2 separate regions of the Homo sapiens genome follow, and region 2 is linked to region 1. Evidence: fine-mapped expression QTL. A gene starts in region 1. The other region holds a variant in brackets. All regions are shown on one strand. Distances are between the middles of the regions. Region 1 holds the start of ROR1 (receptor tyrosine kinase like orphan receptor 1). Region 2 overlaps ROR1 (receptor tyrosine kinase like orphan receptor 1).

Region 1 (5,373 bases):
AGATGGAGTCTTGCTCTGTTGCCCAGGCTAGAGTGCAGTGACGCTATATCCACTCACTGCAACCTCTGCCTCTCAGGCTCAAGTAATTCTCATGCCTCAGCCTCCCGAGTAGCAGGGATTACAGGTGTGTCACCACGTCTGGCTAATATTTTGTATTTTTTTGTAGAGATGGAGTTTCACCATGTTGGCCAGGACGGTCTCGAACTCCTGATCTCAAGCAATTCACCCACCTTGGCCTCCCAAAGTGTTGGGATTACAGGCATGAGCAACCGTGCCAGGCCATTGCTAACCTTTTCTTTGGAAACTTGTGTGCTATAGCTAAACTGAAGGAATCTGGGATGATTTGATGATGGTCCTTACCCAGGTCTGGACTGGTAGGTCTAGGTCCTAGTTTTGGCTCTGGCCAGCTTTGGGCAAGGCGGTTTCACTCTCCTAAGTCCCACATGTCTCCTGTATAAAATGTTGAGGGGGGTGTACTAGTTAATTTCCAAAGCCCTTTCCAGGTCTCACATTCCTTATGTCTATGATTCTGTGATTAAGTTCCTGGAAGTTTAAGTACTGATAAAAGTGCCATTAAGTTCTGTATACTCAGCACTAGCAGCTGTCTGTTACCTAAGATACCTGGGCCTAGGAGTTATAGGGTGGGGGCTGGGGGCAGGGTGGGTGGATGAGAAAGGCTCCTTGTCTGACAACTGTGTGTATTGACTGTAGACAACAGAGGACTGCCCAGCACTGTGCAGTGTAACTGAGTATCCTCTGATTTCTGGGCTGTGATATACTAAGACTGACCATCAAAGACTGTTTCCCAACAAGAGAACCTTGTGCAGTAAGTTCCTCAGGCAAGAAGCGAGATAATTGGGACAGGATTGAATAGATCTCAGGCAGAGAAACTTGGGGGACAGATCAATGTAGGTAATGAACTGGTTGACCCAAGGCCTCTCTGTCTATCATTTTTTGACCTCAGGTCAGAGCGATAGAAAGGGGGAAAACTACCGACACAGCTCCTGCCATGAAGTCCTGGAGAAGAATAAGTGACTGTTTGTCCCGCATGGGTTAGTCATTCACCTGCCTGAAGGCAAAGGGCTGGGAGTCTGGAGTCCATGACCTGCTGGGACATACTTTGGGCTGCATTTTTTCCCCCTTCTAATGTCTCAGCTCTCAGGGATCTGCTTTTCCTGGTGCCAAGGAGTATGGATGAAATTTTGTCCCTCCTCCATGCACCCCTATAAAACAAATATGATGAGAAATTAATATTTTCCAAATGGTGACCTAACCTTTGTTCATTAATTGAGCTCCTATTGCATTCCAGGTACTGTTAGAGGCCAGCAAGATACCTAGATGATTGAGACAGAGTCCTCGCCCTCCATGAAGTGACTGTTCATTTTAAAACCCTAAAGCTGGGTTCTTAGAGGCTACTGCAACAGCAACAACTCCCGAGTGAGTGCTTATCATGTGCCAGGCTCTGGTTACAGGCTTTAACTCTCTCAGTGGAAACAGCCTGAGTGCTGGCTTGGCTACCCCATGTCTGTGAGACTGTGGGCAAGTCATTTACTTTCCCTTTGAGTTTCAATTTCTAAAACTGTAATATGGGGATAATATATGTAAAACAGCTAAGAAGTATATACTTTTAATGACTCTTTTTAGTGTCAATGGAGGATTTGTGAGCAAATGCATATAAAACACAAGGCAAACAGGAGGTATTTAGTAAGTGGCCACGTGATTATTGAGAGACTATGGGCTTCTTCCTGTTCCTCCAGAGCAAGACTGACAGGTGTCCTATTACCCTTGCATCTTCAGAGCCTAGAGCACAGCCCTGAAAACAGCAGGCGCTCACCACTTTTTATGATCAAAGGCAGTCTCTACAGGGAAAGTCAAATCATTATGGGTATTTATGAATTACAAAATCCATAAAGTTAAACCAGGAGAAATGGACAAAAACACACTCATTGTAGAGGTCTTTAATGATCCCTTGGCTCATGGCAGAGCAGCTAGACAAAAAACAAACAAACAAACAAACATGCAAAGATTCAGAAGGCCTGAAAAAATAATGAATACAAAGAAGATAAATCGATACAGTATTCTATCTTCACATTCGGAAGACAAAAACACCTTTCAAAAAACCATGGGACATTGGCAAAAATAACCACAGATAATCCTCAATAAATCTTGCCAGGAGGCAGTACAGATGACATTGAATTCAGTGAGACTACAAATTAAAGACAAAAAGGCGAAGTATAAATTACTTGTGTAAGAACTCTCTCAACTCTTGGGTCCAAGAAGAAAGCAAAAGGGAAATTGTATGATAGCAATAAATGTGCCATTACCCAGAGTCACACAGCTAACAGTGACACAGCTGAGGCTGCTAGAACCTGGGTCTACTGTCGTCCAGCCACGAACTGGCTTGAGATCCCGGATAAGTCTCTCTGAGCCTCGGTTTCCCCTTCTGTCAAGTAGCCTCGAAGGTCCCCGGCGCTCGGTTCGGTGGCGAGTTTGAGGAGTGTGGGGGAGGGGAGGGGAGGGAGCGTGCCCGAGACGCGGGAGCCGCGACCGCTTTCTGCGAAGTCGGGGAGGGTGCGGGCGTTGAGAGGCTGCAGCAGAGGGCGCTGGGTCGCCAGCCTGGGCCGCGTCTCCCATTGGTCGGGGCTGGGGCGCTGGGCTGGAGAGTTGGTGGAAAGTGACAAGTTGAGCGAGAGAGGGAGCGTGGAGAGCTGGAGCAGCCGCCACCGCCGCCGCCGAGGGAGCCCCGGGACGGCAGCCCCTGGGCGCAGGGTGCGCTGTTCTCGGAGTCCGACCCAGGGCGACTCACGCCCACTGGTGCGACCCGGACAGCCTGGGACTGACCCGCCGGCCCAGGCGAGGCTGCAGCCAGAGGGCTGGGAAGGGATCGCGCTCGCGGCATCCAGAGGCGGCCAGGCGGAGGCGAGGGAGCAGGTTAGAGGGACAAAGAGCTTTGCAGACGTCCCCGGCGTCCTGCGAGCGCCAGCGGCCGGGACGAGGCGGCCGGGAGCCCGGGAAGAGCCCGTGGATGTTCTGCGCGCGGCCTGGGAGCCGCCGCCGCCGCCGCCTCAGCGAGAGGAGGAATGCACCGGCCGCGCCGCCGCGGGACGCGCCCGCCGCTCCTGGCGCTGCTGGCCGCGCTGCTGCTGGCCGCACGCGGGGCTGCTGCCCAAGGTAAGAGGCGCCCGCCGGCCCCCGCCCGCCCAGACCCCCTGACCCGTGGCCACCCTTCCGCCGTCCAGCCGGGCGCGGGACACGCAGGAAGCGCCGCGCTGGCTCCGGGGCGCGTCCGGCCACCCGCCACGGGGCTCGCCGGCGCCGCCAGGCCAGGGTTTGCCCCGGAGCCCCGCCAGGCCAGGGTTTGCCCCGGAGCCCCGCGGCGGGCCGGGGCGCGCCCAGGGACTCGTTCCTCGGTGCGCAGCAGCGATTGTCAGCGCTGACAGGAAGCGTGGAGGGGTTTGAGGGTCCTGGGGGTGATCGGGGCACTTCTGTGCAGGGCGTCCCCCCTTGTCTCCCTGGACCTCTAGCGCGCCCCAGCCGGTGTTCAGGCAAGTCTATCCTGCCCCCAAGTTGCGAGCCGGCCCGGAAGGCGCGGTCCAGGAGGGAGTTTGGATTTTCAGTGGTGCTCGCCAGAGCCCAGGCGGCTCGCGGATCGACGCAAACAAAAGCCCTGTCCTCCTGGGGCTCCGGCGGCCTCGCATCGCCACCGCCCCCGGCCCTCCGGCCCTCCCGAGAGTCATCATAGAGGCCAAAACTTGTGCGCCGCTGCAGCCGCTGCCACTTTGTGCAAAATGTGCTGTCAGAGGCGGCCTGCGGCTCCAAAGTGCTTTGGGTGTGCACGCGCGCGCGCGCGCGTGTGTGTGTGCGTGTTACAAACAAGAGGGGGAAAAGCCATCTAATGCATATTTGATTTTGGTAATCTCTAAAGACAATCGCAACAGTTAGAGAAAGACTTCACCGCAAGCCGGAGCGTCTTAGTTCGCTGCGGGAAGCTGGGGTCCTTGCTGCGTCTGAGCCGGTACACAATGAGAGGGAAGAGCCCGGCTGAGCCTGTGGAGACAACCGATTCATTCTTTGGAGGTTGGAGGGGGAAAGTTGATTAAAGTCTCCGGGGTCTCGGGCCTCACTTTTAACATGCATCCCTTGAGGGGGTGAGGAGCCTTTGGATTCTGCCCTCCCCCACTCCCAGCCCTAAACCTGAGCGGATAAATAGATCTCTGCTCTTTTATCATGCATCTTTCATTTTTAAGTTAGCACTGTGTTTAGGAAAAGAAAAAGTTCTGCGCTACTTAGCAGTTGAGAGGAAAAAGATGTATTCACTACATAGACTACGAATGCAGAATTAGTTTTTACTAAAAGTTAGCTGACTTTCTTGGTAGAAAACACACTCTGGAAGGAAGTTGTGTGAAATTTTGATTTCTTAGAGATGGTTTTTGGAAGCTAGAGTAGCATTTTCTGAGGATGATTTCTGAAACGGATCCTATAATGTGGTCGTGCTAATCTGAAAGCTCCTGGGGGTAAATAGAGCTCCTAATTGTAATTAAGATGTGCATCAGCAGGGAGTGCACCTTCCTGATGAAAAATCCTAATGAAATGTAAACAGCTTGGTCACATAGATGTTTTGCTTGGTGATGCCAAACATCTGGCCTTGCGCCACAACACCTGGGTGAAAAGTAAAAATGGGCCATGCTGCCTAAGTAATGTAAACATCCTTCTCAAGTTGGGTTGCCCAGCAAATTGAGGTGGAGATAAGCAGGGTGATTTTAACTAAGGTGGGACTCCTGGCTTGGGGCTTTGGTTAATTCAGTTATTTCCCCTGTGGACTCCTTTACTTTGTACTTCACCTTTCAACAATAGTTGCTTTTAGATCATAGCCCCTTGTGGGGGTGGGGGTCACTTACCTTTAAATACATGTCCCTGCATTGATTTTGCTCACTGTAAACACCCTTCTTATCAGCAGCCACCCCAATTCTGTCTCCTTTAACTGTTTACAGCCTTTTAGAGTTGTTTAAAAAAGGTATTGCCTATTCCATTGTAGCAGGAGGAGCCACAGACAAAACTCCTCAGACACCCAGTGAGCAATTCCTGTCCCTTTTAAGGGCTCACAACTCTAAGGGGGTCCACGTGAGAGGGTCATGATGGGTACATGACTGGGGGCTGCATGCACTGGTAATCAGAACGAAACAGAACAGGATAGGGATTTTTACACTGTCTTTCCATACAATGTCTGGAATCTATAGATAACATAACCAGTTATGTCAGGGGTCGATCTTTAAGTACCAGGCTTAGGTCAGGCAGGCCCAGGCCTGGTTTCGGGTCTGGTTCCTTGGTTTCAGGTCTGGTTCCTAGGTGCCGGGCTACCTGCCTTTAATTTCG
Region 2 (5,373 bases), 23 kb after region 1:
TAAAAATTGGGGTACTAATCATATCTACCTCATTACCTTTTGGTGAGGGCAAAAATCAGACAATGCTGACGGTCACTGGCATGTCCTGAGTGTGCATGGTGAGTCGTCCATCAACAAGAGCTCAGATGACCATGTTCCAGGTGAGGAACCCGAGGCCCACCCTGGCCTTGATCAGAAATAACCACCCTGAATTCCTCAGTGCCTGAGTCTGGCATCGAAACTGGCTTCCCCGGCCTCCAGCACTAGGCCACGAAGGAACCAGCTTCTTTCTCTCACTGGTGGTGGCCTGCTGTGCCCTGCTGGCTGGGTCCAGAGAGACAGAATGAGGAGGAGCTCAGGACCTGTTATCAGAGGCCAGAGGGCGGCTCTCCAGCTAGACTGCTAGCAGGACCGCAGTGATGGAATCACCTGAAGGTCTTCTTCAATTTCCTCATCTGTAAAATGCAGTGGCTTGACTGCCCCTTCCAGCCCTAAATTTGTTTTAGGAAGCCCACTGGAGGAAGCAGCGAGCAAGAAGGGAGCAGCGGAGGGAACATATCAATATGATGTAAGAATAATAGCTCCCATTTTGTAAGTCCTGACTGTATGCCCGGGACTGTGCTGGGATACACAGGGTCCAGAACATTATCCATTTTCTAGGGGCTCACGCACTCATGAAACTGGTGATAGTGGTGGGGTGCAGTCGTTTGGGGTGGGTGGAGAGACATAATAACCGGAGGAATTAGAATTTGTTTTGGTACATGCCTTAAGAGAGATCTGCACAGTGACTTGTGGACCCCAGACGAGGCTGCCTGTGTGTGCAGAGCCTCGAATGCCATGCAGTGAAGGGAGGTTGGAACCCTGCATCCAGGGAAGCGGACTTTGTGGTTGGGAGGGCAGGTTCAGGAAGGTTCTGGTGGGAGGGTTGGCAGCCAGGCTGGTGCTCCAGAGGGCTGATGGATTACATTCTTCGAGTTAGAAATCATCAGAAGCCCCGCTGAGAGGGCTCTTGTGGCTTTGGAGCTATGCCGGAGGTTCCCTCTTGCAAGGGGAAAAATTGGCTGTGCCTTTAAGTGTTATCCTCCTGTCCTCTTGGTTTCCTAGTGTGGCAAGATTCAAATCCAAAGTATTTGCATTGAATTTGTTAATTTCAACCAGTGGTAGAATAGAATAAGAAGTCTAAACAGCCATTTTTTCTTCCCTTGGAGGGTATGTTTTCTGACCTTTTAAGGAAAATCCTGTCGAAACCTTGAAAACTTGTGACTCTAGGTGCTGGATCTGACACTGGGTCAGGGACATATTGTGGACCTGCCGTGTGCTTGGGCCTGAGCTGAGCAAGCTCATGGAGTAAGCTCTCTTGAACTCTTAAGATCGTGAAAATACAGTTCCAAGCCACAGAAGCCCTTTGGAGTGATTCTGAATGGTGGGAGGGCAGAGAGGCTTTGAATGCTGTTTGAACACTTAGACTGCTAAGTACTACTCTTCAAACACTTCACGTGCCTTAGATGGTCTAGTGCAAAGGATATGCAGGAACATAAAATATCTTGCCGCTACTGGAATAGCCTTATCTTCTGCCTCAATATTGATTTAGAACAATAGCTTGTTTTGAACTTTCTCCCCATAAATTAAATTTTAATTTAGAAAATGCCATTAGGGGAAACTTAGTATGTAAGTACAGAAGGTTTTGGAGATGGGGGTGGCTGCTCAGAAGGGAGTCTTTAGAGATGACAAAGGTAAAAGCATTACTCTAATCAGAACATTTCATTAAAACCCCCATCAGACTAATCTGTCGACACATAGTATTTTGAGTATCTTTTGTTGGCAACATTCTGTGCTGGAAACTGGGAGAGAGAGAGTTTAGCTCTTGTCCTGTATGTATGTGCATATTTATATGTGTGTAGTATTGTCTTATATGGGAAAGGACGATGGGATTTTTTTTTTTCAGAAACATTTTTCCCTTCTACAAAGGATGACATCAGGGCATAGCAGAAAGAGCTCTGGACTGAAAGTCAATAAACTTGAGTTTATCTCCTAGCCCTACCTCTAACTAGCTGTGTGGCCCCACACAAAACACTTGCCTTCTCTGATCCTCAGGTTCTCATCTGCAAAGCAATAAGGTTGGACCAAGCCCTGTGTAGTGGCAGTGTCAACATCACCTGGGAGCTTGTTAGAAATGCAGAGTCTCAGGCTCCTCTCCAGAACTACTGGATCAGAAGCTGCATTTTAACATGATCCCAGGTGATTTATATGCAAATTAAAGAACCATGGCTTTAAAGAACCATTCCTGCTCTAGTAATGTATTATTTTGTGTTTTTTTCCAAATGCATATTAAAATATAGTTACGAAGAATTTATCCAAGACTGCATCAAACATTCTACATAAAATGGGTGTATCATCTCTTACCCTTTAAAAGTTTGTACTTTGTGAGAAAAAAGGTTTAAAGGCAGAAACAGGCACAAGCAGTCGTACATTCAGTTCCAGTGCTAGATATACATATTTCTTCCTTTTGCCTCCTTTGTGTTTTGGGCCTTGACAGTGTGGTAAGGGCAGCGGTGGAGAGAGGAGAGGAGGAGTTGCAGAGTCGAGGTGACTGAAGGTGGAAATGGCAATGCACCGAGCCCTGAGCTGGCAGGTGGTCCAGAGAGCAGCGGGCCCCAGCCCAGCTCCTCAGTATCATTG[C/T]AAGGGTTTTGAGAATCCAACATCATCGGTGATGAGAAAAATGTTTCACATTTTTCAAGCATATATGAAAGTGCTTTGATGAATTGAATAACAATTCATAGTGATTTTTTGATGTTCTATATTTTTTCTAATTAATTGATTCTAGATGTTAAACCTATTAGATGGGAAGAGGACTCTAGTTCATTTTTGCATTAAAAGGGTTCTTTCTTACTTGAAGCTGGTGGGAACTATTGGAAGAGGGCGTAATAATTAATAATGATGACAATAACTAACACATGCCGAGAACTTTCTAGGTGCCAGGCACTGTGCCTTGCAAAAAAGGACTTTGGGCATCTGTTAATTAATTTATGGATAAGGAAACCAAGGCTCAGAGTGGTGAAGTGACTTGCTCCCAGTCATCCTATGAGTAATTGGTGGATCCAGGCTAGAAACCCAGTGTCCTGGCTGTGGGGCCAGCTTTTTTTCTGCTGTGCCCGATTTTGTGGTTTGTCTCTCTGGTGCTCTGGAGTAGCATGTGTGGGAAGGCTGAACGGAGAGTCATGAATTTTCCCGAGTTCCTCCTCTGGGAATCACAGACTATCAGAGTCCGGAGGACTTTCAAAAGCATGCAGGCCACAAACTCCATTTACAGGTGAACACATCCAGCCCAGCAAGGGAAGGGAACTTGCTCAAGGTCAAACAATTAGTAGGGTTTATTTGTTCTGGTCTTCCTCTACCTGAAATTCAGCTCTATTTGAACAAGTGAAACAAGCCCTTCTATGAAAGCAAATGAACACGGTTTTGAATATTGTATCTCAGGTTGCTGTGAGGGCTATATATATCTTTAAAAAGGATTCAGCATAGCCACTGGTAGTTGATAAACACTCAAATGATGTTTGTTATGGTTATCATTTTTACTAAGCTTCACATATTAAATTTAGGGACACCTTTGTTGTTGTTGTTTTAAAGCAGGACTGATTGTAGTCTTGTCTTTTTTTTTTTTTTTCCATGTTCTCTATCTTCAGGATAACCTTTGAGAGGACAGACGACCAAATTCCTTTTCACTAAATACTGCACCACATAATCATTGGAAGCCATATACTGGCAAGGGAGAAAGTTGCCCTTTTGAGAGGCTGCATTCTTCATCTTATGAGCCCATGCCATGCCAGCCAGCTCTCATTGAGCTGAGAAGCTATCTTTTTGGCAGTAGGTCTCCTGATCATGAAGATTTGAATGGAACAGACATTTTCTGAGACTCAGTCAGGCATTTTTCCACTCTGCATACAATTGTTACCAATCTAGAGAAGTAGGAACTGGTTTAGAATCAGAGCCAGCTTCATAGGTATGCAACCTGTGCAACTGCGCAGACCATCCACATTGGAGCCCCCTGGTTGATTTGACGCTCTGCAGGGAAATTGGAATTCTTGATATTATTTTCAATAAGACGCCCCACTTTTTTATTTTGCACTGGGCCCATCAACTTAAGTAGGTACTCTTGGTTAGAATAATCTAGAACAGGACCAAGAGCCTGTGAGGAACAAGTCAGTGGGGGTTGCAGTTTTTGGGGGAGGAGGAGGAGGCCACAGACCTGACTCCTTGTGATGGGTCCTAGTATTATACATGGGCTTGAGCCAGGCAGCATGCAGTCCGCTGCCATAGAGAGGAGGTAAGCAGGGTGGTTTGTTGTCTTGTCCACCCATCACTTTGCCTTGTAAGTATAGACAAGACACTAACTGCTCTGCATGTCTCCTTTGTATCCCCAGCCCTGATCACACATAGTACCCAGCACATAGTAATCACTTAACACATTGTGGCTATTTACTTTATTGCTGCTCTAAAGTAGTCCAGAGATGAACCATTATTCCAGGGGCTTTACATGTATTATCTCTAGTTTTTCTGACAGCCTTTCAAGGTAGACATGATCGTCCCTTCTTTACAGATGAGGCAACTGAGACTCAGAAACGTTAAGCAAAAGTATCTCTGGTTCATCTCTGGACTACTTTGAAAAAATAGATGAAGTGTTGTGTGAGATGCATTATAAACTTTCCTATTTTTGGTGTCAGCACCATACTTTATATCTTGGCTATTCAGGGGCTTAACGTCAATTTCCCTGCTAGTAACCTCTTTCTTTTATTGATTCAACAGCTGGATTAACTTCCCCAGCATCATCATTTATTAGCCACGTAATCTTAAATACTTTTGCTTAATGTTTCTGAGTCTCATTTGCCTCATCTGTAAAGAAGAGATGATCATGTCTACCTTAAAAGGCTGCTAGGAAAACTAGAGATAATACATGTAAAGCCCCTGGAATAATAGTGACTGGCACGTAGTAGGTGTTCAAGTCACTTTTCTTATTATAAAGTTGACATACAAACAGCTTTCATTGTGTCATTTCCCTTCCTCAAAAATATCTTCAATGGCTCCCCATTGCCATGGCCATGGTGGATCAAAGCTCATCATGATCTAGCCATAGCCTACATTGTCTGACTTCTCTCACCAGTGTTTAAAAACTTCTCCAATGCTAGCTGTGTCTTGTTCCCCAGGCCACTGGAACCTCCTTGGCGACAGAATTCCATGTTATCACTTGAGTGCCTAGGAGCATGCCTGTCATAGTGTCTGTATGGCTGGTTGCTAATCACAGTGTATTTCAGGAATATTGTGCAATTCTGCTTTTTTCCCATTTGTTTATAGCTCTTAGTTCCTTCAAATTGGAAATGGATTATGGTTTTGCATTTG

What was found. PIP is the estimated chance that this variant, and not a neighbour inherited with it, causes the effect.
Region 2: its variant is the best candidate, but not a certain one, in a credible set for the expression of ROR1 in cerebellar hemisphere (GTEx, PIP 0.81).

The regions. Positions count from the first base shown.
Region 1 is chr1:63,771,338-63,776,710 of GRCh38, forward strand. ROR1 (receptor tyrosine kinase like orphan receptor 1) reads left to right here and starts at 2,680. Exons shown (of 9, transcript NM_005012.4): 1 at 2,680-3,171. The coding sequence starts at 3,081. RefSeq lists silencers at 2,747-2,796, 3,581-3,875 and an enhancer at 3,741-4,304.
Region 2 is chr1:63,794,230-63,799,602 of GRCh38, forward strand. The region is part of intron 1 of ROR1 (receptor tyrosine kinase like orphan receptor 1); the gene reads left to right. Among named protein-coding and RNA genes, the nearest start is that of ROR1, 23 kb to the left of the region's middle. RefSeq lists an enhancer at 555-1,214. The variant C/T (reference allele first, on the strand shown) is at 2,659.